7 linked regions of the Homo sapiens genome follow. The protein of the gene in region 7 interacts with the protein of the main gene of each other region in a pairwise test. Each region holds a gene or a part of one and is shown on either strand. Other genes may lie near its edges.

Region 1 (3,500 bases), on a different chromosome or scaffold from region 7:
CCATTTGCCACATAATGTATGGAGCATTTTATGTGAAAATTTCCAAAAACCTTATGAGGTAGGTAGTATCGTTATCATTATCCCCATTTCACAGATAAGAGAAATTCAATAACTTTCCCAAAATCACATAGCACTCAAAAGACCAAAGGAGGATTCAAATCCAGGTCTGTCTGATGCGAAGGCTAGGTTTTTAAACCACTATGCTCTATTGCCTCCATTGTGACCAACTACCTGGAATCAAAAACATTTCATCTACTGCCTGCCACTCCCTCTCAAAGGTAAAAGAAGTCAAGAGAAACAAACACGTTTGTGAGTGTCCTGCTCATCTCTCCCTCGCCCCTCCCCCACGCTTGCCCTGGATGCTGAAAAGCAGGCCTATGCTCTTCTTTCTCGGCCTTTCCTCCTCTCATGTGTCAACAGCACCAAGTCAGGAGTTAGGACTGCCAAGAAGTAAGAGGTAATCAGGCAGGTAAGAGATCACTTTTATTCCTAGGGAGGGCAAACAGGGTGGGGAAGGCCTTTGACAGTGAAACCTGGGCTTGGGAAACCCTGACTTTGTGCTGCTCATCTTCGTTTCTGTCTGGCCACCCACATATTCCGATTCCCTTCCCCTAGGCCTTCTCTTAAATCCAAACAGATGGAGGGACCAAGAGAAGGAAGGGAAAATGGACTAAAAGAAACAATCCTCACTCACTGTATTCCAACCAAAATTGTGACTTTTGGGAGACGGCTCATTAAGGGACAAAGGGCCTAATCCAAACTCCTCTGGCTAGCTGGCTGGAATTCTGCAGGGGCTGGATATTTGGGGCAAACGACAAGTATACGAAGTCAGACTTGATGGTGGCAAAATTCATACTGAGTGTATTTGGTCTATAGTTCTTCCCTCTACTAACCACTATGAGGGCAGGGACCATGAGTTCCTGCTCTATACTTATGACACAATACCTGGCTTTCAGCAAGTCTTTAATAAACAGGAGGAAGAGACTGAATGAACATGTTTTTGCCAACTCACTTCCCTTGCTAGGTATCCCAGAAAAGAAAATGAGATGCAGAACTGCTGAGCAGCACGAGTTAGGGAGTTCTGATTGTCCACCAGTGATGCCTCCATCTAAATGTCCCTACGATCAGGGGCCCTTTAACTCAGTAATTAATAATCTACGAATTTATACCTCAGATATATTTTCACATGTGAAAAAATGACATATGTACAAGGTTATTCACTACAGTTTCTTTTTTCTTTCTTTTTTTTTTTTTTGAGATGGAATCTCGCTCTGTTGCCCAAGCTGGAGTGCAGTGGGTGCGATCTCGGCTCACTGCAACCTCCGCCTCCTGGATTCCAGGGATTCTCCTGCCTCAGCCTCCTGAGTAGCTGGGATTACAGGCGCCTGCCACCATGCCCAGCTAATTTTTGTATTTTTAATAGAGACGGGGTTTCACCATGCTGGCCAGGCTGGTCTCGAACTCCTGGCTTCATGCTATCTGCCCACCTCGGCCTCCCAAAGTGCTGGGATTACAGGCATGAGTCACCACGTCTGGCCCACTACAGTTTTATGTATCCAAACAAGATTAGAAATAACCTAAATGCACATCAATAGAAAACTCATTAAATAAGCCACTGTACATCTATGCAGTGTAATAATATGTAGCTATATATAACAAGGGAATGAATACTCAGCATTCTGATAGGGAAAGATCTCCTAGCTATATTAAAGTTTTTTTTGTTTTTTGTTTTTTTTTTTTTTGAGATGGAGTCTTGCTTTGTTGTGCAGGCTGGAGTGCAGTGGCATGATCTGGGCTCACCACAACCTCCACCTCCTGGGTTCAAGTGATTCTCCTGCCTTGCCCTCCCGAGTAGCTGGGATTACAGGTGTGTACCACCATGCCAGGCTAATTTTTGTATTTTTAGTAGAGACAGGGTTTCACTGTGTTGGCCAGGCTGGTCTCGAACTCCTGACCTCATGATCCGCCCACCTCGGCCTCCCAAAGTGCTAGGATTACAGGCATGAGCCACTGTGCCCAGCAATTTTTTTTTTTTTTTGAGACAGAGTTTTGCTCTTGTTGCCCAGGCTAGAGTGCAATGGCGCAATCTTGGCTCACCGCAACCTCTACCTCCTGGGTTCAAGTGATTCTCCTGCCTCAGCCTCCCGAGTAGCTGGGATTACAGGCATGCGCCACGACGCCTGGCTAATTTTATATTTTTAGTAGAGATGGGGTTTCTCCATGTTGGTCAGGCTGGTCTTGAACTCCCGACCTCAGGTGATCTGCCCACCTTGGCCTCCCAAAGTGCTGGGATTATAGGTGTGACCCACTAGGCCCGGTCCCATTTTTTTTTTTAAAGGTACAAAATAATATATAGTATGCAACCTTTTGTGTTAAAAACGTGGAAATAAAATAGATGCAGCTAACCACCATGGCACATGTACACCTATGTAACGAACCTGCACGTTCTGCACATGTATCCGAGAACTTAAAAAAGAAAGGAAATAAATATATACATTTGCTTCTTTTTATATAAAGAAATTCTAGTCACATATACTGTATAAGAAACTAATACTTTTAGGGAGGTGGTAGAAGCTGGGTAGATAGGGAACGGGAGAGTAAGAGAGACTTTTCTCAGCATAACCTTTTTGTTGTTATTTTTTAAATTTTGAACCATGTGAATGTATTACCTATTCAAAAAATTAGATTATACAAGTCCCCACAAAGCTAGAATAAGAGCAAACCAACCAGATAACTTTCATGCTAGAACATGAAAGACAACTGTCAATCTCAGAAGTTGACCCTGGCAAGAAGGTTCTAGAGGTAGGCTCGCTAGCCCTGGTCACTGGAAACCAATGATAGAAATGTGTGGAGAGAGGAATGGGTACACACACGTACACAAACACACACGATGCCTTACCAGACACAAGCTGGAAAGAGTTCCCACAGTTGGAGATGTCTGCATGATCAGGCAAAGGCTAAGAAAGAGAGAATATCCATCATGATTTGGATTCAGGACACACTGACAGATTTCTAGGAAGCCCTCTTCAGTTCTCCTCTGCGATTCATGAGCTACAGGGATGTTAGGGACATTAAGTGTTCTTCCTCTTGTCTTCCCAAAGTTAGTAAGTCAAACAATCCACATCTTCCAACATCTCAAACCCTTCTCCACCCAAGTTTTGCTGTCCCTTCTCTATCGGTGGAAAAATCCCTGCCCCCTTCCTTTTGGGCTGGGTTTTGAGCCATTAGTGGGCTCTTCCAGGTTAAGTACCATGATTCATACAGCACAGGACAAGAGTAAAGTAATAGCAACAATCAGCCTCAGAAAAAAGGGGGAGGGGGTCGTGGAGAAGCAGGAAGACTGGTCTTTTACCAGACTGATGCTGAAGCGTGTGCATTTCAGCTCATCCAGAGTCTGCTTCTGTAGCTGCTCAGTGATCAGGGTTATCATGATTCTCCCCAGGATTTGACTTGCACACTTTGGAGCAAATGATGGATGTCTTCCCTGTTGTTCTTCCAGA
Region 2 (2,207 bases), on a different chromosome or scaffold from region 7:
GTCAGCAGCCATCAACATTGAGGCAAAACTCTTCACTAGCCAAGAGTACAACTTGCCTAAGGCTCGGATGATCGTTAGCATTCTTTAGCAATAAATTATTTTTAATTAAGATATGTACACTGTTGGGCCGGGCACAGTGGCTCACGCCTGTAATCCCAGCCCTTTGGGAGGCTGAGGCAAGCAGATCACGGGGTCAGGAGATTGAGACCGTCCTGGCTAACACAGTGAAGCCCCGTCTCTAGTAAAAATACAAAAAATGGCCATGTGGGGTGGCACATGCCTGTAGTCCCAACTACTCGGGAGACTGAGGCAGGAGAATTGCTTGAATACACGAGGCAGAGGTTGCAGTGAGCTGAGATCGTGCCACTGCACTCCAGCCTGGGCGACAGAGCGAGACTCTGTGTCAAAAAAAAAAAAACAAAAAAAACCCACTGTTTTAGACATAATGCTATTGTACACTTAATACAGTGTAAACATAACTCACATGCAGTGAGACACTAAAACGTGTATGACTCATTTTATTGCAAAGTTCGCTTTACTGTGGTGGTCTGGAACTGAACCTGCGACGTTCCTGAGGTATGCCTGCACTTACTAGTGAGCTTCCCGTGGAGGCGTGAAGTGCCTCTTCCCGGAACTGCCGGGCATATTATCCTCCCCCTTTCCTCCACTTAAAAAGCAGCTTTGCCTGGCCAGGCTTGCAGTTCCTTAAGGATAGACTGGTCTTCTCTAGCTTGACATGCAGTCGATCCATCCCTCTAGCTCCGAGGTTCGGAAACTTCAGTGCGCACAGCAATCACCCAGAGGCCTTGCTGAAAAGGTTGCTGGGCCTCACCCCCAGGATTTCTGATTCAAGGTGGACCCCAAGAATCTACATTTCTAACAAGTTCCCAGATGATAGCTGATGCTGCTGGTCTGGGGACTACACTTTGACCACCGATCTAGTTTAGCTTCTCCCAAAGACTTTCCTGGGCAAAACCAGCTTTCTCAGAGTAGCTGTGTGGATCCAGGTCACACCTACCGCCTGTCTGCCCAGGTCCCTCAGAGCTAGGACTCAGCTGACACCTGGGATGAGGCAATGCCTAGTAAAATAAAACACCAAGACACCAGGATCTTGTTAGCTGGATATATTTCTGTTTTTTCTTTTTTTTTCTTTTTTTTTTTTTTTTTTTTGTCACAGAACACTGTTTGCAGTAGAGGAAACTGGCATTGCAGTCTGGTGGTATAATGGCTTGTCCACATAAACCAGTACATGTTCATCCTTTAGCGCAAAAAGCCCTAATGGCGCGTACCCTATTAAAATTCAGGACATCTCCAATATTCTCTCTCTCTGTTTTTCTTTGTCATCTTTTTTTTTTTTAAATAAACATTTTCAAGGTTTGTCCAAAAGAAGGCCATATAGGTTCTTGGCTAGCGGAAGACAATTCAGAACAGCTGTTGCACACTTGGACTGTCACCTTCTCCAGGCTGGCAGTTGATATCTTATTTTTTTTCCAACTCATTTTTATTAAAAAAATAAAAAAATGCTCCAACTATCAGCTTTACAAAATCTCTAAGGGAAACACAAGAGCAAGGTGCTGAGGTAAAAACACCTGAGGTAGCTTCTTCTGTGTGTTTTTCTCGTTAAAAAAATCTGTGAATTTAACGCCCTGGGCCAACAACCTTGGTAAATTTCTACTTTCCTCCACATTTTTTTTTTTTAAAGAAAGGAATCATTTTGCTGAATATTGATGGCTTATACACCAAAATGCAAAAAGACAAAATACATTCTTTCATTGTGGAATTTTTTCTTTGTTTGGTTGATTGGTTGGTTTGGTGGGTTCCTGTTTTCCTCTTCCAAAACGCTAGGACAAGTACCATTGACTCTTGTTCTTTTGAGTAACCAAGTGTAAGTTGAGGCTGGTTTGTGTGTTTCGCTTTTGTTCCTTTTGTGTGATGTGATACTCAGAGCACTGCTTTGCCTGGGGGGGGGGGGGTGCGTAGATACGGGATTGAGATGGAGGGATGAGGAAATTCAAAAGAATGGAGATGGAGAAGAAGGGGAGGGGAGGGAGGGGAGAGATAAACAGAGAGAGACAGAGAATTATATAGCAGTATGCAAAAAACCAGTTTAAAACCTGTGAAGCAAAGAGAAATGGGTGTATGAGCTAGACAGGCATGAGGAGTGACAGAGTTTCCTCTTCAAGGAGACGGTATCCCTTCTGTTGACA
Region 3 (4,219 bases), on a different chromosome or scaffold from region 7:
TGGTGGCAGGCACCTGTAGTCCCAGCTACTTGAGAGGCTGAGGTTCCCACCTCAGGAGGCCGAGGCTGCGGTGAGCTGAGATCGCACCACTGCACTCCAGCCTGGGCGACAGAGTGAGACCCTGTCCCAAAAATGCATAAATAGTAAAACTAGTGAGAGTGAATGAGAGATGGGATATGTAAAGGGAGTGGGAGGAGTTAAGGAGTAACTCCTCGGTTTCTGGCTTGTGTAAGAATAACTTCTGTGATTGGTGGGGAAAATCCACCAGAGTTCTGTTAAGTGTTGTTCATTTCCTGTCCCCCGTTAGGGGTTACCCCTTCCATCTTAAGCAGGATATTCTAGGATCTCTCAGTCTCACAGCCTTGCCCACCAATAACCAGCAGGTGAGCCCCCTCTCCCCAGACCTCTAGATCTGCAAAAGGCAACCTGGAGGCAAGGAAATCCCCAGCTGTGAGTAGCCATTCAATTCTGGTGCTGTGGTAACTGAGTTCAAAAACAATGAGTCTTGTTACCTACCCGTAAAATGAAAGACACCTCATCAGACACCTCACTGGATTGTGAGGCTCCAAGGAGCACACATATTGTTAGGCTCAGTTCGATTCCCTCCAGCCCTCTCCGCCCGTTTGAAGGCAGTTCCTTATCCCGGAGACAACGTACAGATGTTCTCTCTTTCCCTCTTTATTTTTTTTAAGACAGGGTCTCTGTTGCCCAGGCTGGAGTGCAGTGGCGCGACCACAGCTCACTACAGCCTCAACCTCCTGGGCTCAACACGATCCTCCTGCCTCAGCCTCCAGAGCGGCTGGGACTACAAGCGCGCACCACTGCACAGGGATTATTATTATTATTTTATTATTTTGTAGAGAAACGGGTGGGAGTGGTCTCGCTATGTTGCCCAGGCTGGTCTCAAACTCAGCTCAAGAGATCCTCCCGCCTCGGCGTCCCAAAGTGTTGGGATTACAGGCGCCTGCCACCGCGCCCGGACGCAGATATTTTCTATGGGCATCTGGAATGGCGTCCCCAAAGCTTGGCGCCGTGCTATGGTCAAGCCGGGTCGGGGGCTCGGGCCAGCCTTCAACACCGTTGGCAGCAATCGGAACGATCAACTGTACCCTCAGTACCGCGACCTCGCCCGGTCCTGCCAATGGCCGGCCCCTAGCCGGTCCTGAGGCCTCGCGAGAGCTCCCGTGGCTACGCCTTCCCCGGCCTCGGAACGGCCCCATCCTTCCTCTTTCCCCGCCTCCCAGCGGCGCTCCACTCTCGGATTGGCTGATTGATCCGAGTCAGTTTTTTTCCTCGCCAGAAAGCGGTTCGACAATTGGTCCTTCTTTTGGCCCCTCCTGCGATGCCCGCGGATTGGACGGCTGAGTCTGGCTACGCGGGCCTCCGCGGGAGCGCGACCGGGCCAATCAAGAGCTTGGCGTATTTTACAAACTGAGAAAGTAGCTCCAGCAGCACCCGAGAGGGTCAGGAGAAAAGCGGAGGAAGCTGGGTAGGCCCTGAGGGGCCTCGGTAAGGTAAGGCACGGGGGTCTTGAAGGGAACGAAGGCTGCTGGGTTCATAGGGAGGAGGGCAGTTTGGGGCCCGAGGGCGAAAGAGTAGGCTCGGGGTGTCTGGAGATAGCACCCATAAGAGCGGTCTTGCAGGCGCCGGGGGCTTGTGGGCGCGTGGATTAGGGCGGAGGTATCAGGGATGGCAGGACAGGTGCCCCGAGAACTGGTTGATCTTTGATCTTAGATTCTGCCTGCCTTCTTCCCCGTCTCAATTGTAGCCATCATGACCACCCGGCAAGCCACGAAGGATCCCCTCCTCCGGGGTGTATCTCCTACCCCTAGCAAGATTCCGGTACGCTCTCAGAAACGCACGCCTTTCCCCACTGTTACATCGTGCGCCGTGGACCAGGAGAACCAAGATCCAAGGGTAAGAGGGGCCTAATGGGGGAAGACAGTAGTCACACCAGTAATGCACCCCAACACTAAACCTCACCTTTTTGTCCCCGCTCCCTCCCCTAGAGATGGGTGCAGAAACCACCGCTCAATATTCAACGCCCCCTCGTTGATTCAGCAGGCCCCAGGCCGAAAGCCAGGCACCAGGCAGAGACATCACAAAGATTGGTGGGGATCAGTCAGCCTCGGAACCCCTTGGAAGAGCTCAGGCCTAGCCCTAGGGGTCAAAATGTGGGGCCTGGGCCCCCTGCCCAGACAGGTACCTGTTGGAGCCATGGTAACACGGCCTCCATGGCTGAGTAGGGGACTAGGAAGGGTAAAAGTGGGGTTTTGGGGTTTTGCACTCACTCCTGCTGTCTCCTACTTACTGTGATAGTCCTGGTCCCAGCTCCTGGAAAGCTCTTTGCTCTTAGAAGATCTCCCTTTCCTCCAGCAAAATGTCATCTCGCCAGGTGCCATGGCTTGTACCTGTAATCACAGCTACTCAGGAGGCTGAAGCAGGAGGATCACTGGAGGCCAGGAGTTGGAGACCAGCCTGGATGACAGAGGGAGATCCCATCTCTTTAAAAAATAAATAAATAAATAAATAATAAATATCACTTCTTCTGAAGCCTTTTCCAGTTCCCCATGTCACAATCAGTTGCTCTGTGTTCTCCTAATACTTTGCAGCACTTCTTTTATAACATGTATATACCTTGGCTTGAGTCTGTTACCTGTCTATAGTTTGATGATAGCCTCTTGAGGATAGGGGCTTTGTCTTATTCTTATGGGACCCCAGTGCTTAGAATAGTGTCTTATGTAACATTCTATGAACATTTGGTGACCAGGTGTGGTGGCTCACGCCTGTAATTCCAACACTCCTCCGAGGCAGGAGGATCATTTGAGCTCAGGAGTTTGAGACCAGCCTAGGCAACATAGTGAGACCCCATCTCTTTTTCTCTTTTTTTTTTTCTTTTCTTTTTTTTTTGTGGAGACAGAGTCTTACTCTATCCCTCAGGCTAGAGTACAGTGGCATGATCTCGGCTCACTGCAACATCCACCTCCCAGGTTCAAGCGATTCTCATGCCTCACCCCGAGTACCTGGGATTACCAGCACCTGCCACCACACCCAGCTAATTTTTGTTTTCTTTCTTTTTTTTTTTTTTTTTTTTGAGACAGAGTCTCACTCTGTCACTAAGCTGGAGTGCAGTGGCACGATCTTGGCTCATTGCAACCTCCACCTCCCAGGTTCAAGTGATTCTCCAGCCTCAGCCTCCTGAGTAGCTGGTACTACAGGCGCGCGCCACCAGGTCCAGCTAATTTTTTTTTGTTTTTGTTTTTTGTAGAGATGGGGTTTTACCATGTTGGCCAGGCTGGTCTCAAACTCCTGACCTCAGGTGATCCACCTGCCTCAGCCTCCCAAAGTGCTGGGATTACAGGAGTGAGCTACCGCACCCAGCCAATTTTTGTATTTTTTTAGTGGAGACAGGGTTTTGCTATGTTGGCCGGGTTGGTCTCAAACTCCTGACCACAGGTGATCCACCCGCCTCGGCCTCCCAAAGTGCTGGGATTACAGGCATGAGCCACTGCACCCAGCCATCTATTTCTTAAAAAAAAAAAAAAAAATAAGCCAAATTCAATTGAATGAGTCTCTTGCTCACCTTGTACCTCAAAGTTCCTATGCTAGGGGCCCTATCCCCCTCAGCCTTCCCCCTTCCTTTTCCTTCTCCTCTTTCCTTGCAGAGGCTCCAGGGACCATAGAGTTTGTGGCTGACCCTGCAGCCCTGGCCACCATCCTGTCAGGTGAGGGTGTGAAGAGCTGTCACCTGGGGCGCCAGCCTAGTCTGGCTAAAAGAGTACTGGTTCGAGGAAGTCAGGGAGGCACCACCCAGAGGGTCCAGGTAATGAAACAGGATGTGAGGAGACCAGGCTAGGGGGCACTGAGGGGGGCATCCTGAGCAGTGCTGACAGCCTCTGTTGGTGTCCCAGGGTGTTCGGGCCTCTGCATATTTGGCCCCCAGAACCCCCACCCACCGACTGGACCCTGCCAGGGCTTCCTGCTTCTCTAGGCTGGAGGGACCAGGACCTCGAGGCCGGACATTGTGCCCCCAGAGGCTACAGGCTCTGGTGAGTGCCCTTGAGGGGCTGATAGTCGGTGCTTCTGGGAGCTCCTTCCAGGGACAAAGCTGGGCTCTGGGAGAAGAGGTACCTCATGATGAGGCAAGGGATCCTACTGGGGGAGATGGGGTTGGTGGTGAGGCCTGAGGGTTTGGGGTCCACCTCTGATTCCGTTTTCA
Region 4 (4,055 bases), on a different chromosome or scaffold from region 7:
CACCATTGTACTCATTACATATAGAGAAAATTATGTATGGCTCTCATGGCCAAATCCAGGCAGAAAAGAGGCAGAAAGAGACTCGAACAATTTTTCAAATGCGAATACCACCTAGGGGTAATGCACGACGGTCTTCCAGTTTTAAGTCTCAAGTTCTCCAACTAAAATTACTTAAATAAAAGTACCAGCCTACTCCACTCCTCCCCCTTTAAAAACTACAGGAAGAGAGGGTTTCCCTTTACCGACTTTTCCCACTTTGACTTCTCTCCTCCAGCGGCCCAGGCCCCCGACGACCCCAGCCCCTAGCCAGAAACCTCCGCCCCTGCACTCCCCTCCCCCACCAGTGGCCAAGCCCGCCCCCGGCCTCATTTATCCTGGAGCCTTTTCTGAATCGCGCAACCAATGGCAAACGCGAAGCCGAGAGCCACCGCGAGCGCAGGCGGAGGCGGAGGAGGTGTCGCCCAGACACCCGCCCAGGACGCTGCGGGATCCCATCCCCCACCACTCCGGGGCCGGGCCGCCCCCACTCGCGCGGTGCCCAGGGCCCGAGAAGGGCGCACGGGGTGGGGCGCGTCGCCCGCCTGTCTTGCCCCCACCCCCTGCCCCCCTCACCCACTCCCCCACCCCTCCTCGCAGCATTTCCGTCCATGCCAGCCTTAGAAACGTGCCTGCGGCTTTGCTGGGGTTACACTTCTAATGCCATTAAAGCCACCAGGCGAGTTCGGGATTGTGACTCTGGTTTTGTTGTTAATAACCTATTTTGAAAAATCGAATGATTAAAACTACGGTAACTAGCGCTGAGGAACTGCCTGTTAGTACCTCTGCCCATTTCCTCATTAAAAAAAAAAAAATCAATATTCCAGCCCTCCCTCCCAGGATCCGCCCAGACCAGATAACCCTTTACAAACTCGAGTTGTGACCGTCAGCGCCCCGCTTGGTGCCGGCTGCGGTTCCTTTAGCATTTTCCTTCTTCCTCCTCCCCCTTCTCAGAGTCCCTCTCCCAATCTCGTTTCCCCTCCCCCTCTTCCTCTCGCTCGCTTTTTTCTCCGAAACCCACTCTAATTGAGGCTCTGGGATTCCTCACGTGAGACGTTGATTTGTAGTTTGAACACGTGGCTCATTCAAAAAGCCGGACACTCGGAGCGGATTTTTTCCGCCTCCTGCGCCTTCCTCCCTCCTCCTCCTCCTCCTCTCCCCTCCCTCCTGCCAGTCACCCTTCTGGGTTTTTTATGGGGAGGCGGCGCCTGCCTCACGTAGTGTGATATTTTCACAGTCCGCTGGCCGAAGCCAAAGGGGTTGGGAAGGAAGAGACAAAAAGTAGTTTTTTCCCCTCCTCCTCCTCCTTTCTCTTGCTAATCCCGCCTCCTCCTAAGACTTAGGAAGACTGGTGGATGCGTTTGGGTTGTAGCTAGGCTTTTTCTTTTCTTTCTCTTTTAAAACACATCTAGACAAGGAAAAAACAAGCCTCGGATCTGATTTTTCACTCCTCGTTCTTGTGCTTGGTTCTTACTGTGTTTGTGTATTTTAAAGGCGAGAAGACGAGGGGAACAAAACCAGCTGGATCCATCCATCACCGTGGGTGGTTTTAATTTTTCGTTTTTTCTCGTTATTTTTTTTTAAACAACCACTCTTCACAATGAACAAACTGTATATCGGAAACCTCAGCGAGAACGCCGCCCCCTCGGACCTAGAAAGTATCTTCAAGGACGCCAAGATCCCGGTGTCGGGACCCTTCCTGGTGAAGACTGGCTACGCGTTCGTGGACTGCCCGGACGAGAGCTGGGCCCTCAAGGCCATCGAGGCGCTTTCAGGTGGGCCCGGGCCTGGCCCCACCCGGGCTCTCGCCCCAGCCCTGCACCGCCCGCCCAGGCCCACCGGGTGGCTCCGCGGGCCCCAGGCCCGGCGCGCTGGGGGAGCGGGGGTGAGGCCTGAGCGCCCACACCCACGCGCGTGGGGGCCGGGGCTCTCCTCAGCTCCGGCTCCCACTCCGGCCCGCGGCTCTGCTTCCCCGGCCGGGGTTTGCTGGGTGAGGGCGAACGCGCTGTCAAGAAAGCCCCGGCGCTGGCTAAGGGGGGCGCGGGGCTGGGGGAGGCGCGCTCCCCCGGCGCCCCGCCCGGGCCCAGGCGCGTGCTCCAGGCCCCGGCACGCTGGGCCTCGGGGGCCGAGCTAGAATGCCCGCCTGTGCCTCGTTCCTTCCTGCTTTCCTCGGTCGTTATTTACGGCGCTGTCTGTGCTGCGCCCCGAAACCCCCGGCCGTGGAGAACGGAAAGTGGCCTCGACCGTGCTGCCGAGTGAGACCGCGAGGCTGGTGCCTCGCACAGGCGGCCCCGCGCTTCCTCCCCACCCTGTGGGAGGAGAGAGTGTGTGCCCGGTTTCCCCGTTCCACCTCCCCTGGTCCGACGAGCGATAGGGGCAGGTGGGCGGGGGCGGCTGGTCGCCTGGAAGGGAGTCGCCGCCACGCACCGGCCGCCCGCCGCTCTCCGGGCCCTGGCGCGGGGCTGCGGCCTCCGGGTATGGCTCCGCCAGGGCGAGGGACGGTGCCGGGCGGAGCAGGACGCCCAGGGGGAAGGCTGCGTTGGGGTCCCCATGGGAGCCCCGTGCCTTTCGGCTTCCCTTTTAATCAATTCAGACGTGGTGCGGGCGCCTCGCCGTCCTTCGCGCCTGGTTCAGCCTGTGCCGAGCTGCGCCTCTGCCAGTTCTCCCGTTCGTGGTCTCCCCTGCCGTCCCCGACCCTTTCTCGCCACTCCCTGTCTTCCTCAAGCCCACCGCTGAGTGTTCCCGGCGGGTCTGGGCTGAAGCAGAGGGCAGGGCCAGGGCGCCCCCTCCTGAAGAAAGCCAGGGGAGCCCCCTGCCCCGAGTCTGCCCTGTGGAGCGTGTCCAGGGCGGTGAGAGGGTGGGCCGCGTCCCTCTTGCGGGCCTCGTGGTGTTGGTGGCCCCCAGGGGTGGGTGGGGGAGGCTTGGAGACTGGACTGATACCCAAGTAGTGGGCCCGCCAGCGGACCCTGCTCCCCAACCATCTGCGAGTTAAATGCCCACGCCGCTCGAGGGGGTCGGCTTCTCCCTCCGCCTGGAGCCGCGTCCGGGCCTCGGGGGCCCTTCGAGGGCCTCAGGAGGCCATTTGTGTCGCCGCTTGGGCTGTGCGGGTCTTCGGGCAGGGAGAGCCGCTGAACTCGGCCGACCGTCTCACTTCTTGTGTGTCCGCAGGTAAAATAGAACTGCACGGGAAACCCATAGAAGTTGAGCACTCGGTCCCAAAAAGGCAAAGGTGAGCTGCTGCTTCTGTTTGCCCCGATTCTGTTCTCACTCCGTTATTGGGTGGAGAGACTCAGCTGAGAACTTCTTGTCCTCTGGTGCTTACCCCCTGCCGTGTGGCGTGGTGTTCCGGTCTTTAATCCTTGCTTTTAAGTTTATGGCGGGGGTGTGTGTGTTGATGATGCTGGGCAGGAATTGAAAGCTTTTCTGTGGCCTCTGCCGCGGGATTATGGTTATTGGTTACAAAATCTCTCGAAAGCTCACAGCTGAATGTCCTCGGTCCGAGCGGGTCAAATTGCTCCTACGGGAAATGGGTCCCAACAAGCAGTTTGGGGGGTTTGCAGGGCTTGGGAAGCAGCGGATGATTCCCCCACCCCTCCAGGAGCAGGAGAGGCGAAAGCAGCTGCGGACACGCGGGGGTCCCTCCTTTCCTTCTCTGTCCGGGGTTGGGAGGCCGTGGGCGCGGCCGAGTGGAGAGGAATTTGCCTCTGCCCTGTGAGCTCGCCAGGGGTATTGGAACGCGTGCGTAAACGCTGGGGCCTCTCTGGCCCAGAAGTGCCTTTGAGTCACTCCGAAGTTCTACAGGTTCCTGCAGTCAGCACCTTTGTCTCCCCGCTTTCCACCCCACTCCTCCTGGGTACATTTTTGCTTACAACCACCAAAAGATGAAGACAGGAAGATTCGTACTACTTAAGGACGGGGATTTCTCGTCTCCGAGATCATGTGTGTAGTATGTCGCTTTACAGAATGTTTATAGACTGTTTTAGCCTCTGAAGCATTTTGGAGACATGGCTCTTTCCCTT
Region 5 (3,500 bases), on a different chromosome or scaffold from region 7:
GGTGGACTTTGGCAAAAATGGTTTGGTTTGCAAGAGCAATGGAGAAAAAACTTATTTAACTTTTCCTACTTATAGAATCAAGGCAGCCTTGCGCTTGTTTAAACTTACTTGGCTATACACGTGTCTGATGTACATAATGTACATTTGTTTTCTAAACTAACTTTGTTCATTCTAAGATTTAAAAACTGATCAAACAAATGTGATAATTCTGTCATAAGTCACAAACTATAAACGATTTCTCCGTTTTTTTCTCTTTTACCTAAAATGTTTTCAGATAAATGTGTAATAAGTAGAGCCAAAGAAGCTTTAAAAAGTCATCTCATCTTACAATCCTTGATCTGGAATAATGCTTAAAGACTATAGAAGAGACGCATTTTTATTTTTTACAGATTTTATTAAGTGAATACAGTACGTTTGATTTGGACATGTTGTTGAACATTAAATTGCAGTTCAGAATACATAGAAATCCTCCCTTTTCTAGAGATTGTGTATGTGTGTAAATTTTTGTGCCTTCTGGTTCATGTACGTTTCCTTCTCTCCCTCAAATCGTTTAGCAGTTTCTTACCCCATTCTCCGTGATGTGCTTATTTCATATTGCATGCCTGTATCAAAACATCTCATATGCCCCATAAATATATATACCTACTATGTACCCACAAAACTAAAAATTAAAAAAAAAGGAAAAAAAAAGGCCTGCAACAAGAGAAGAAGAAAGAAATCAGATACCCTGTAGGTAGCTATCTCCAAAAGTTTTCAATAGTTGACTTAAGAAAACTACTGACTTGTATGTAACTGAAATCAGGAAACCTGTAGTGTAGAGTGGTTCCCCTGAATATGTCTCTTTTGGTAATCTAAGCTGTATTTCAGAAATGTACAGAAAAGGAGCTAAGCTTCTAAATGGATATAGCATATTTTGCATAAATCAAATTTAATATGAATCCATGATTCTTGTATGTGTAAATCTGCCTGCATTTATTTATGTCAGTAGTTGGTAATTATTCATCTTAATTTTTTTTTTTAAATTTCTAGGTGTGCCAAAGAGGCGGCACATAAGGATTTTAAAAAGGCAGTTGGTGCCTTTTCTGTAACTTATGATCCAGAAAATTATCAGCTTGTCATTTTGGTGAGCATTTTTGAGTTGTTTATTTTTAGTTTAATTCATCTGGGGCAATTGCCTTGATAATAATGTTGTTAATTTAAATCATTTAGTCCATCAATGAAGTCACCTCAAAGCGAGCACATATGCTGATTGACATGCACTTTCGGAGTCTGCGCACTAAGTTGTCTCTGATAATGAGAAATGAAGAAGCTAGTAAGCAGCTGGAGGTATGTCACTTTCCCTAGCACTGCTTGTAAGGGTACCTAGGAACGATTAACTGTATCATTCCACAACTTGAATATGGGGAGCTTGTCATTTATTTACTGCTTCTTAACAATTCCTTAGGTTCTATAGTTGGAAAATTGTACAAAGCATAATCATACTAAAGTTTCCATGCCTGAGGTTTCAAAATTAAACAGCAGCTTATGTATATTAAGGGACTTCTGGTACTTTCACTTTTACTAGAAGTTTATCAAAGTTGCTAATAAAATGCGGCAATGCTTCTTCCATATAACATGTTGTCATTAAAAATACTAGAGAATATTTAAATATCTAATCATATTCCTCTCATTATGTATGTTTATCTTTGTTTAAAAGGGTATAGAACTTCTTCATTCTAATTGGTTGTCATTCTTTAAAACTCCTGTCTTCAGATTCCCGCCAGAGGCTATTTCCCTAACTTACTATTTTGTCTCTTAAGGTGCATTTTATCTACTTTTATTAATCCTCCAATAATTTTCATCACCATATATTTGTTTTCATTGATAACTATCAAGTACGTCCATCCATTACTATAGAAACTAAGTGGATCTTAGATGAATGTGCCAGCTCTACTATATTCCTGTCAAATTCCAGAGTTCGTCATCATTATTCATTAGAAGGAAAACACCACACATTTGAAATAGTAAAGAAAAAAAGGAGTTCCAAACTGCATTTTAGGAGAAAAGGTAGTCAAGACTGTGTTCTTATAAAAACCCTGTGAAATTTGCCACCTGTCAACTTGATGTATGATGCTGAACTCTTAGCAGAAGGGGAAAAGTTTAATCTCCTTTTGCCACTTTGTTTTTTCTTAAGGCCATGGAGGTCTGTTTAATTGGTCTTTGCTCTCATTCTTTCTTGATGTCCCTGTGTTCATGATTTTGTGGTTCCTTCAGTGATTCTCTCATAACTTTTAGCCCAGAGCTGCCTCCTTACTTTGATTGTGAGTATTATGAAAATATACTCATATGCCTCTTAAACATCGAATTATTCTTAAATGATCTATCATACTTTTGGCTAACCATTTATCAGTGAATTATCAATGAAAAAGAACGAACCAGATTAATGAACCAGGACTCAAAAAACATGACTTCTTGAAAAGTCCTAGAATTATTTTATAGATTTTATTACTCTAGTCTAAAAAAAATGGGTATTGCACTTTTAAATTATTTATGCTAGTTGTATTCATTCATTCAAATTATCAGGTCTGTTGAACAATGAGAAACTAGTATGCATGCCTATCTTTCTTCACTACTAATATTAAAGAGATTTACATGTTCCTATAAGAAATTCCCATTTTTCAACATGAGCCACTAATACGTTTGGTTTTCATTAATGGCATGCTAGAACTGAACACTAAATTTTGATAATGGTATTTAAAGACAGTGGTTATCCACAAGTTTGGGATGTCAGTGTAACTTAGTTTCGTCATCACTGGATATTTACAAGTGCTCATCATAATTGTGGATCCAGATCACAAGGTCTTACGGACTCTGGTCTCATGTTAGCTTTCAGATGCTTACTAAGTTTTTAATTTTTGACATTTTTTGATTATTCAGTTTAACTACTGTACCAACAATTTTTGATTCCTTAGGTTTTGAGGGAGGTGTCATTTTAATGTCATTTCAACAGAGGAATGTTTAGACCACAGTACCTAATGATGTTATAAAAAATGGCACTGTTTCCAGAAAATATATACTGATACCTTTTAATAAAAATGAAGCGAATAAAATTTTCTATAAAGATGATATTTAAACATTTTTTTACCTAAATAAGTAACATTGAGTTTGTCAGACCGAGTGAGCTGGTTTTTACTGGGGAACATTTGACCTGCTTCTTAGTTATTATATTGCTGATGTCATTGGTTAACTAAGGCAGCCTTGTGATAAGTTTTCAGCAGTTACCTTGGAAAATGTCAACAAGTTCTTTCCTATTAACAAAAACATATAAAATGTCATAGACCTTTAGTAACCTAAAAAGTACTTAGGCTGTGAGAGGTATTTTCTAAAACCTGTTAGTTTTAACCTAAAACTATTAATAATTTATGGACCCCTCATATACAGGGTCAAGATAATTTACATGGCTGGCCTAAATACAGTTGTCGTAATAGTTGATAAAGTGTATTCATCAGACGTCCATTTCT
Region 6 (3,500 bases), on a different chromosome or scaffold from region 7:
CGGTAGTGTGTGCCTGTAGTCCCAGCTATTCTGGAGGCAGAGGCAGGAGGTTGCTTGAGCCCAGGAGTTTCAGGCTATAGTGTTCTGTGATCCCACCTGTGAATAGTCCCAGCTATTCTGGAGGCTGAGGAAGAGGGTTGCTTGAGCCCGGGAGTTTCAGGCTATAGTATGCTGCGATCACACCTGTGAATAGTACTGCACTCCGGCCTGGGCAACAAAGTGAGACCCTGTCTCTAAAAAACAATCATAGTGATAATACAATATTTTTTTAAAAAAGGTAAGTTTAGCCCAGTAATAGTTAAGGTATTTCCCAAGGTTTCACAAATAGAGAGTTATAGGGGTAAATTCTAGTAAAGCTGTTTGTGACATGCCTTGTGAAAATTATTCAGTCACTTTTATAACCCCATGGAAAAATGTAGGTGGATATAAACCAATTTTTTTCTTTGCTCAGAGTGCATATAAATTATTATTCTTGGGCGTGTAAAAGTTTTTCTTATTGGGCAACAACAACAAAAAACAATATAAAAACAGTTGATTTACTGGTGTCACTGTGTTTCATTCATGCAGGAAACATGTTGAGTGCTTATTTTAATTTATTGATAGGGTTTCTCTGTCGCCCAGGCTAGGGTGCAGTGGTGCGATCACGGCTCACTGTAGCCTCGACCTCCTGGGCTCAAGTGATCCTCCCACTTTAGCCTCCCGAGCAACTGGGACCCCAAGTGTGTACCACCACACCTGGCTAATTTTTAAATTTTTTGTAGAGATGGGGGTCTCACTGTGTTGCCTTGGCTGGTCTTGAACTCGACTCAAGCAATCTTCCTGCTTCAGCCTCCCAGAGTGCTAGGATTACAGGTGTGAGCCATCATGCTGGGCTTTTTAGTGCTTACTATGTGGCAGCCTCTGCTAGATGCTAGGGATAGAACGATCTACCAAGAGACAGTATGTGTACATACCTTTAAGGAGCTTACAGTCTGGTAGGAAGCATAGGAGACTGTTACAATATAGGATAATAATAAGTGTGACGATGGGGTGAAGTGCATTGGTACTAAAGTAGCCTGAAGGGGAGCAACTAGCCAGGCCATGGAAGGGTCGGGGAAGATTTAACCAAGGGAAGTAACATACATGTTAGCACAGACCTTAAGGACAAGAAAGATGTGGGCAGTTGAGAGTCAGGAAGACAGGAGCTGGCACCTGTAAGTGCCTAGAACCAAAAGAATCATGAGTGTTTCAGAATTGCTGAAGCATAAAATGAGGGTGAAGAGAGGGGTCATGTGGTGAGAGGAGAAGTAGGAGCCAGAACACAAAGGCTCTTTTAAGACCGGTCAAGAGTTTTAGGGAGTGAGGGTTGGGGTAGGGCTTTGCTGCAATGTGAGAATAAATTTGTTAAGAGGCAAGGAGGTGTGGAAGATATCATAATTTATGGGAAAGGTGATGATTCTCACCAATCTAGAGTAGAGGTAATTAGGATGCAGAAGAGTGGAGGACATTTGCAGAGAACCCAGTTGAGCTTATCGATTGGATAAAGTTGGAGGAGGGAAGCATTAAGGAGAAAACCCTGGTTTCTGGCTTCTGAAACTAGGTAGATAGAAACTAGGTAAGTAGAGAAGGCCATGTGTTGGCTCACACCTGTAATCCCAGCACTTTGGGAGGCTGAGGCAGAAAGATCATTTGAGACCAGGAGTTCAAGATCAGCCTGGGCAGCATAGTGAAACCCTGTCTCAGGAAAAAAAAAAAAAAAAAAGCAAACAGAAACTAAGTAGGTAGGGTAGTAGTGAAAGGCAGAGGAGGATATGATTTTGATTTTTATTATTTTGGGAGGAGTGACGATGAGTCAAGTTTTAGACATGTTGATTTCAGTGTCTGTAAGACACCCAGTAGAGATGTCTAATGAAAAGTTGTGTGTGGACCTGAGAGAGATCTGTCTGGAAATATTTAAGAATCATCAACATTAAGATGTTATTTGTGGCTGTAGAAGTGGAATGAAATCATCTAGTAAGAGTGTGGACTGAGAAGAGGGCTAGGGATATCAAGATATAGCAGAAGAGGAGCTTCCAAATAGACTCAACGGGAGCATCAAAAATAGGAGGAAGCCCAGAACCATTCTGTGCCACAAAATCCAGCCCATGGAGAGACTAGTTTTAACCTTTTAAAGTCTCAAATTTAGAGTTTTAAAATGTTTTAATCGAAGAATGTAATGAATATAAGGCTAATTTAGCAGAAGGTAGGAGGTGGCCTAAATAAGCTTATTGATTTTTTTCTTAAGAGGGCAAATGGAACCTCTTCTAAGTGTGTGTGGTTTATAATGAGATATAATTTATGTATACATTTTAAACGTGCAATTTAGTGGTTTTTTTGGTGTATTTACAAGGCTGTGCAACCACCACCACTGTCTCCTTCCAAAACATTTTAGTCACCCGGTAAAGAAACTTCATAACCATTAGTCACTTCCCATTCCCTCCTTCCGCGTATTCTCAGCAACCACTAATCTACTTTCTGTCTCTATGGATTTGCCTTTTCCAGATATTTCATATAAATGGAATCATGCGATACTTGGCCTTCTGGATCTAGTTTCTTTCTCTTCGCATAATACTGTTCTGTCTCATCCATGTTGTAGCATGTATTTGTACTTCATTTCTTTTTAGAGCTGAATAATCTGTAATATGGATATACCACATTTTGTTTATCCATTTATCAGTTGATGGACATTTGGGTTGTTTCTGCTTTTTGGCTACTATGAATAATGCTGTTATGAACTCTCATGTACAAGTTTTTGTGTGAACATCTGTTCTTGGATATTTAGGAGTAGAATTGCCGTATGTTTAACTTTTTGAGGAACTGCTTTCCAAAGTGGCTGTGCCATGTTACCGTCCTAGCAGCAGTGGATGAGGGTTCTAATTTCTCCACATTTTTGCCAACAGTTAATTTTTTATTTTTATTTATTTATTTTTTTATTTTTTTGAGACAGAGTCTGGCTCTGTCACCCAGGCTGGTGTGCAGTAGCGCAATCTCAGCCTCACTGCAACCTCCACCTCCCGGGTTCAAGCCATCCTTCCACCTCAGCCTCCCCAGTAGCTGGGACTACAAGTGCTCGCCACCATGCCTGGCTGATTTTTTGTATTTTTGGTAGAGACGATTTGCCGTGTTTCTACCTGGTCTCATGCGTTCGAGACCAGCCTAGGCAACATGGCAAAACCCTGTCTCTAGCAAAAGTATTAAAAAATCAGCCAGACGTGGTGGTGCATGCCTGTGGTCCCAGCTACCCAGCAGGCTGAAGCAGGAACGCCACTGCACTCCAGCCTTGGTGACAGATCGGGACCCCGTCTTAAAAAAAAAAAGAAAAGACAGATAGATGACTGTGGTTCTAAGGTTTATGTATTCCAACTATTTTGTGAATGGTTGTGGAGTTTAAATGTAATGATTGAGTAATAGTATCATAAATACTGTTCCTTAGCAGAGTGGAAAGTGTAAAGAATAGAGCAGAAGATTTACGGAGGAGGACA
Region 7 (3,500 bases):
TCACCCAGGCTGGAGTACAGTGGTGCACTCAGAGCTCACTGCAGCCTTGACCTCCTCCCAGGCTCAAGTGATCCTCTCACCTCAGCTTCCTGAGTAGCTGGGACTACAGGCATGTACCACCATGCCCGGCTATTTGTTTTTTAGATGGAGTCTCGCTCTGTCACCCAAGCTGAAGTGCGGTGGCGCAATCTCGGCTCACTGCAACCTCCACCTCCCAGGTTCAGGCAATTCTCCTGCCTCAGCCTCCTGAGTAACTGGGACTACAGGCATATTTTTCAGTAGAGACAGGGTTTCACCATGTTGGTCAGACTGGTCTTAAACTCTTGACCTCAAATGATCTGTCCACCTTGGCCTCCCAAAGTGCTGGGATTACAGGTGTGAGCCACCGTGCCCGGCCCCATGCCCAGCTAATTTTTAAAAGTTTTTGTGGAGATGGGGTTTTACCATGTTGCCTATGCTAGTCTCAAACTCCTGGGATAAAGCAATCCTCCCACCTTGACCTCCCAAAGTGCTGGGATTACAGGCGTGAGGTACGGCACCCAACCCAGTTTTCAGAGCATGTTAAATAACCACACACACACACACACACACACACACACACACACACACACACACACACAAAATCCCAGAGGCTTAATAAAGTATGGACCTAATAAAGTACTTTTTTAAGTACTTTAAATGAGTGTGCCTATTATATGCTAGGAACCATATTCAGTGGTAGAAAATAATAAACAAAACATAAAAATTCCTGCCAAAAAGAAGTTTATGTTATAGTGGGAAGACAGCAAATACATATACACACAAACACACAATTTTTTTTTTTTTTTAATGGAGTCTTGTTCTGTCTCCCAAGCTAGAGGGCAGTGGCGTGATCTCGGCTCACTGCAAGCTCTGCCTCCTGGGTTCAAGCCATTCTCCTGCCTCAGCCTCCCAAGTAACTGGGATTACAGGCACGCAACACCACACTAGGCTAATTTTTCTATTTTTAGTAGAGACGGGGTTTCACCATATTGGCAGGGCCAGTCTCGAACTCCTGACCTCAAGTGATCTGCCTGCTTCAGCCTCCCAAAGTGCTGCGACTACAGGTGTGAGCCACTGCGCCCGGCATTATCAATAAATAATTAAATACATGATGTCAGATGCTGGCTAAGAACTATGGGATGAGGAGAAGGGGTACTGCAACCGTAAGTGGGGTATATGGTTTCACCGAGAATGTGACATCAGAGCAAACACTAACATCAGCAAAGGAGTATCTCAGAAAAGAGCATTTTAGGCACAGGAAGGAAGAAATACAAAGGGCTATGGGCCTGTAGCTGGCGTTTTCAAGGGACCACAGAGTGAGGGGAGAAGGAGAGACCAGGTGGTGGTGAGAGAACTGGCATCAGAGGAAGTAGGAATCTGTGGGTTACTCAAAGGACCTCGGCCTTTACAATGAGTAACATGGCAAAGTTTTTTTAATATTGTTTAAGCCCAAGAAAGATACTAATTTACACAGTAAGATTTATACTAAAAAAAAAAACAAACTATGACAGTTACTATAAAAGAGTAGCTCACCAGTTCAAGTTGAAATGAATTAAAAGGGGCTGGGCACAGTGGCTCACGCCTGTAATCTCAGCACTTTGGGAGGCTGAGACGGGCAGACCACTTGAGGTCAGGAGTTCGAGAGCAGCCTGGCCAACATGGTGAAACATCAACTCTAGTAAAAATCCAAATATTAGCCAGGCATAGTGGCGCTTGCCTGTAATTCCAGCTACTCGGGAGCCAAGATTGCCCCACTATACTCCAGCCTGAGTGACAGAGCAAGACTCCATCTCCGGGAAAAAAAAAAAAAAAAAAAAAGAAGAATTAAAAGGAAGGATGGAAGAAACAAGTTTCTGACACCACCTATTAACAGCTGTGTAATCCGGTACAAGTCATTAATGCCTTTGGCCTTTCTCTTCTCATTTATAAATAGACTGATCAAGACGTGCAAATTGTCAATTTTTCTTTTAAAAAACAAACAAAACCCCACAGGTGTAGTTTTTAAAACAATGAAAGTCTAATTTCTCTGACTGCAGGGAAGTTAAGGCCTGTCCCTGCCCTCCCATTCACTGCCTCTGACCTTGAAAAATCTTCCAGAACACAGACTGAAAACCTGTAGACTTCAGAACTGCACACAGTCTCTGTAGCCCTACAAGTCTATAATCTCGTTTACTCTACATTATTCAGACTGAGTATCCATCAGTCCTACTGATCATTACTCTTCAACTCCAAATCATAATCTCAAAATTTAGAGTGATGTTTGTATCACTCTTCAGGATGGCCTTCATTCTTTATCATCTTTAAGCTTTCTGTATTGTATTTAAAACCTGTAAAATGTATGCCAAAATACTTAACACTTTCTAACTGTTCTCCTTCATGAGTAGATTAAAATATCCTACTCCTATCTCATAATTCTAAACTTACATGACAACTGACAAATATGAAAAATAGGTATATTCAAACTGACCTCACATTTGAATGATTAAGTAGACATCTTTGCCTAAAAACAACTTTTAAATTACACTGTCACAGATGAAAGACAAAAAGAAATTATGAAAACAGAATTTGTAAAGCAATACATCATTTACCTCATTGGCACCACTGAACAGAGGTTCTCCAGTGTGCATTTCAACCAAAATACACCCGAGGGACCACATATCAATGGCAAGGTCATAAGGCATTCCCAGTAGCACCTCTGGAGACCGATAAAAGCGACTCTGAATATACTGGTATATCTGAAATATATTTCAAAATAGTATTACTTCAATTGCTTAAAACTGCAGTCAGCATTGGATTAAAAACATTGATCTGATATTAACAGAAAAGAATTGGCTAATTCCTGAATTAGGGTTCCATTGATTAACTTCAACATTAGACTACGAATACGGCTTAAAGAACTAAACATTTTGAGGGATTGGTTAATCTGACTGTGAAATGCATAATACGTAAAGATTCAAGCCCTTTCATTTAGTCTAATCCTACCTAGTCATCATGATATTTCTTAAAACAATTATGCCTCACTAGGAAAAAAAAAACACTATTGAAAGCAATGTATTTCCCTAATAATTATTTCTTCCTACTATGGCTGGCACTTAGTTTACCACTAACTTTACAACTAAATAGTATTTAAATTAACCCAAACAATGTATTTCTCAGCGTTAAAAGTCAAGTAACTTCAATATAATATAATTTAAAATTCAGATATTTGTACTCTTGCTGTCTCACAGATAAATCCCAGAAACACTGCCACATAAAGATTCAATTGAGAGCTGTCTCTGACCAATAGCTTCTTCTCTCATCTTCTCTCTCTACCTCCATCCAAGACTTCTTATAGAAAGACAATCCTGAAATGGACTATTTTCAATGAAGTAATGTTAGGATGTCTTCAGAGACCAATTTGTTTCACTTATTAAAAGTGGAAAAGAAATAAAATCCTAACTAAATTTCCTAACACCCAAACCATGCAGCCAGAAAGCTCA

What was found.
Region 1: the proteins of DYRK1A (region 7) and FAM53C interact in binary tests that used the Homo sapiens proteins (3 or more experiments, as listed by UniProt).
Region 2: the proteins of DYRK1A (region 7) and IGF2BP2 interact in binary tests that used the Homo sapiens proteins (3 or more experiments, as listed by UniProt).
Region 3: the proteins of DYRK1A (region 7) and TROAP interact in binary tests that used the Homo sapiens proteins (3 or more experiments, as listed by UniProt).
Region 4: the proteins of DYRK1A (region 7) and IGF2BP3 interact in binary tests that used the Homo sapiens proteins (3 or more experiments, as listed by UniProt).
Region 5: the proteins of DYRK1A (region 7) and FMR1 interact in binary tests that used the Homo sapiens proteins (3 or more experiments, as listed by UniProt).
Region 6: the proteins of DYRK1A (region 7) and PRDM4 interact in a two-hybrid assay, tested with the Homo sapiens proteins (one large-scale study listed by BioGRID and IntAct).

Annotation. Positions count from the first base shown.
Region 1 is NC_000005.10:138,341,266-138,344,765, reverse strand, and holds part of FAM53C (protein FAM53C), read right to left. Parts: 5' UTR 3,431-3,500; coding exon 3,353-3,430; intron 2,958-3,352; coding exon 2,900-2,957; intron 1-2,899.
Region 2 is NC_000003.12:185,642,630-185,644,836, forward strand, and holds the end of IGF2BP2 (insulin-like growth factor 2 mRNA-binding protein 2), read right to left. Parts: 3' UTR 501-2,207; downstream 1-500.
Region 3 is NC_000012.12:49,321,836-49,326,054, forward strand, and holds the start of TROAP (tastin), read left to right. Parts: upstream 1-1,419; 5' UTR 1,420-1,514; intron 1,515-1,768; 5' UTR 1,769-1,773; coding exon 1,774-1,917; intron 1,918-2,009; coding exon 2,010-2,202; intron 2,203-2,311; exon of another isoform or gene 2,312-2,319; coding exon of another isoform or gene 2,320-2,439; exon of another isoform or gene 2,440-2,553; intron 2,554-2,656; exon of another isoform or gene 2,657-2,741; intron 2,742-3,665; coding exon 3,666-3,823; intron 3,824-3,911; coding exon 3,912-4,049; intron 4,050-4,219. UniProt on the Homo sapiens protein: Could be involved with bystin and trophinin in a cell adhesion molecule complex that mediates an initial attachment of the blastocyst to uterine epithelial cells at the time of the embryo implantation.
Region 4 is NC_000007.14:23,467,692-23,471,746, reverse strand, and holds the start of IGF2BP3 (insulin-like growth factor 2 mRNA-binding protein 3), read left to right. Parts: upstream 1-1,255; 5' UTR 1,256-1,636; coding exon 1,637-1,811; intron 1,812-2,099; exon of another isoform or gene 2,100-2,171; coding exon of another isoform or gene 2,172-2,511; intron 2,512-3,204; coding exon 3,205-3,265; intron 3,266-4,055. UniProt on the Homo sapiens protein: RNA-binding factor that may recruit target transcripts to cytoplasmic protein-RNA complexes (mRNPs). This transcript 'caging' into mRNPs allows mRNA transport and transient storage.
Region 5 is NC_000023.11:147,928,919-147,932,418, forward strand, and holds part of FMR1 (fragile X messenger ribonucleoprotein 1), read left to right. Parts: intron 1-1,029; coding exon 1,030-1,123; intron 1,124-1,209; coding exon 1,210-1,326; intron 1,327-3,500.
Region 6 is NC_000012.12:107,747,638-107,751,137, reverse strand, and holds part of PRDM4 (PR domain zinc finger protein 4), read left to right. Parts: intron 1-3,500. UniProt on the Homo sapiens protein: May function as a transcription factor involved in cell differentiation.
Region 7 is NC_000021.9:37,492,273-37,495,772, reverse strand, and holds part of DYRK1A (dual specificity tyrosine-phosphorylation-regulated kinase 1A), read right to left. Parts: intron 2,757-3,500; coding exon 2,610-2,756; intron 1-2,609. UniProt on the Homo sapiens protein: Dual-specificity kinase which possesses both serine/threonine and tyrosine kinase activities. Exhibits a substrate preference for proline at position P+1 and arginine at position P-3.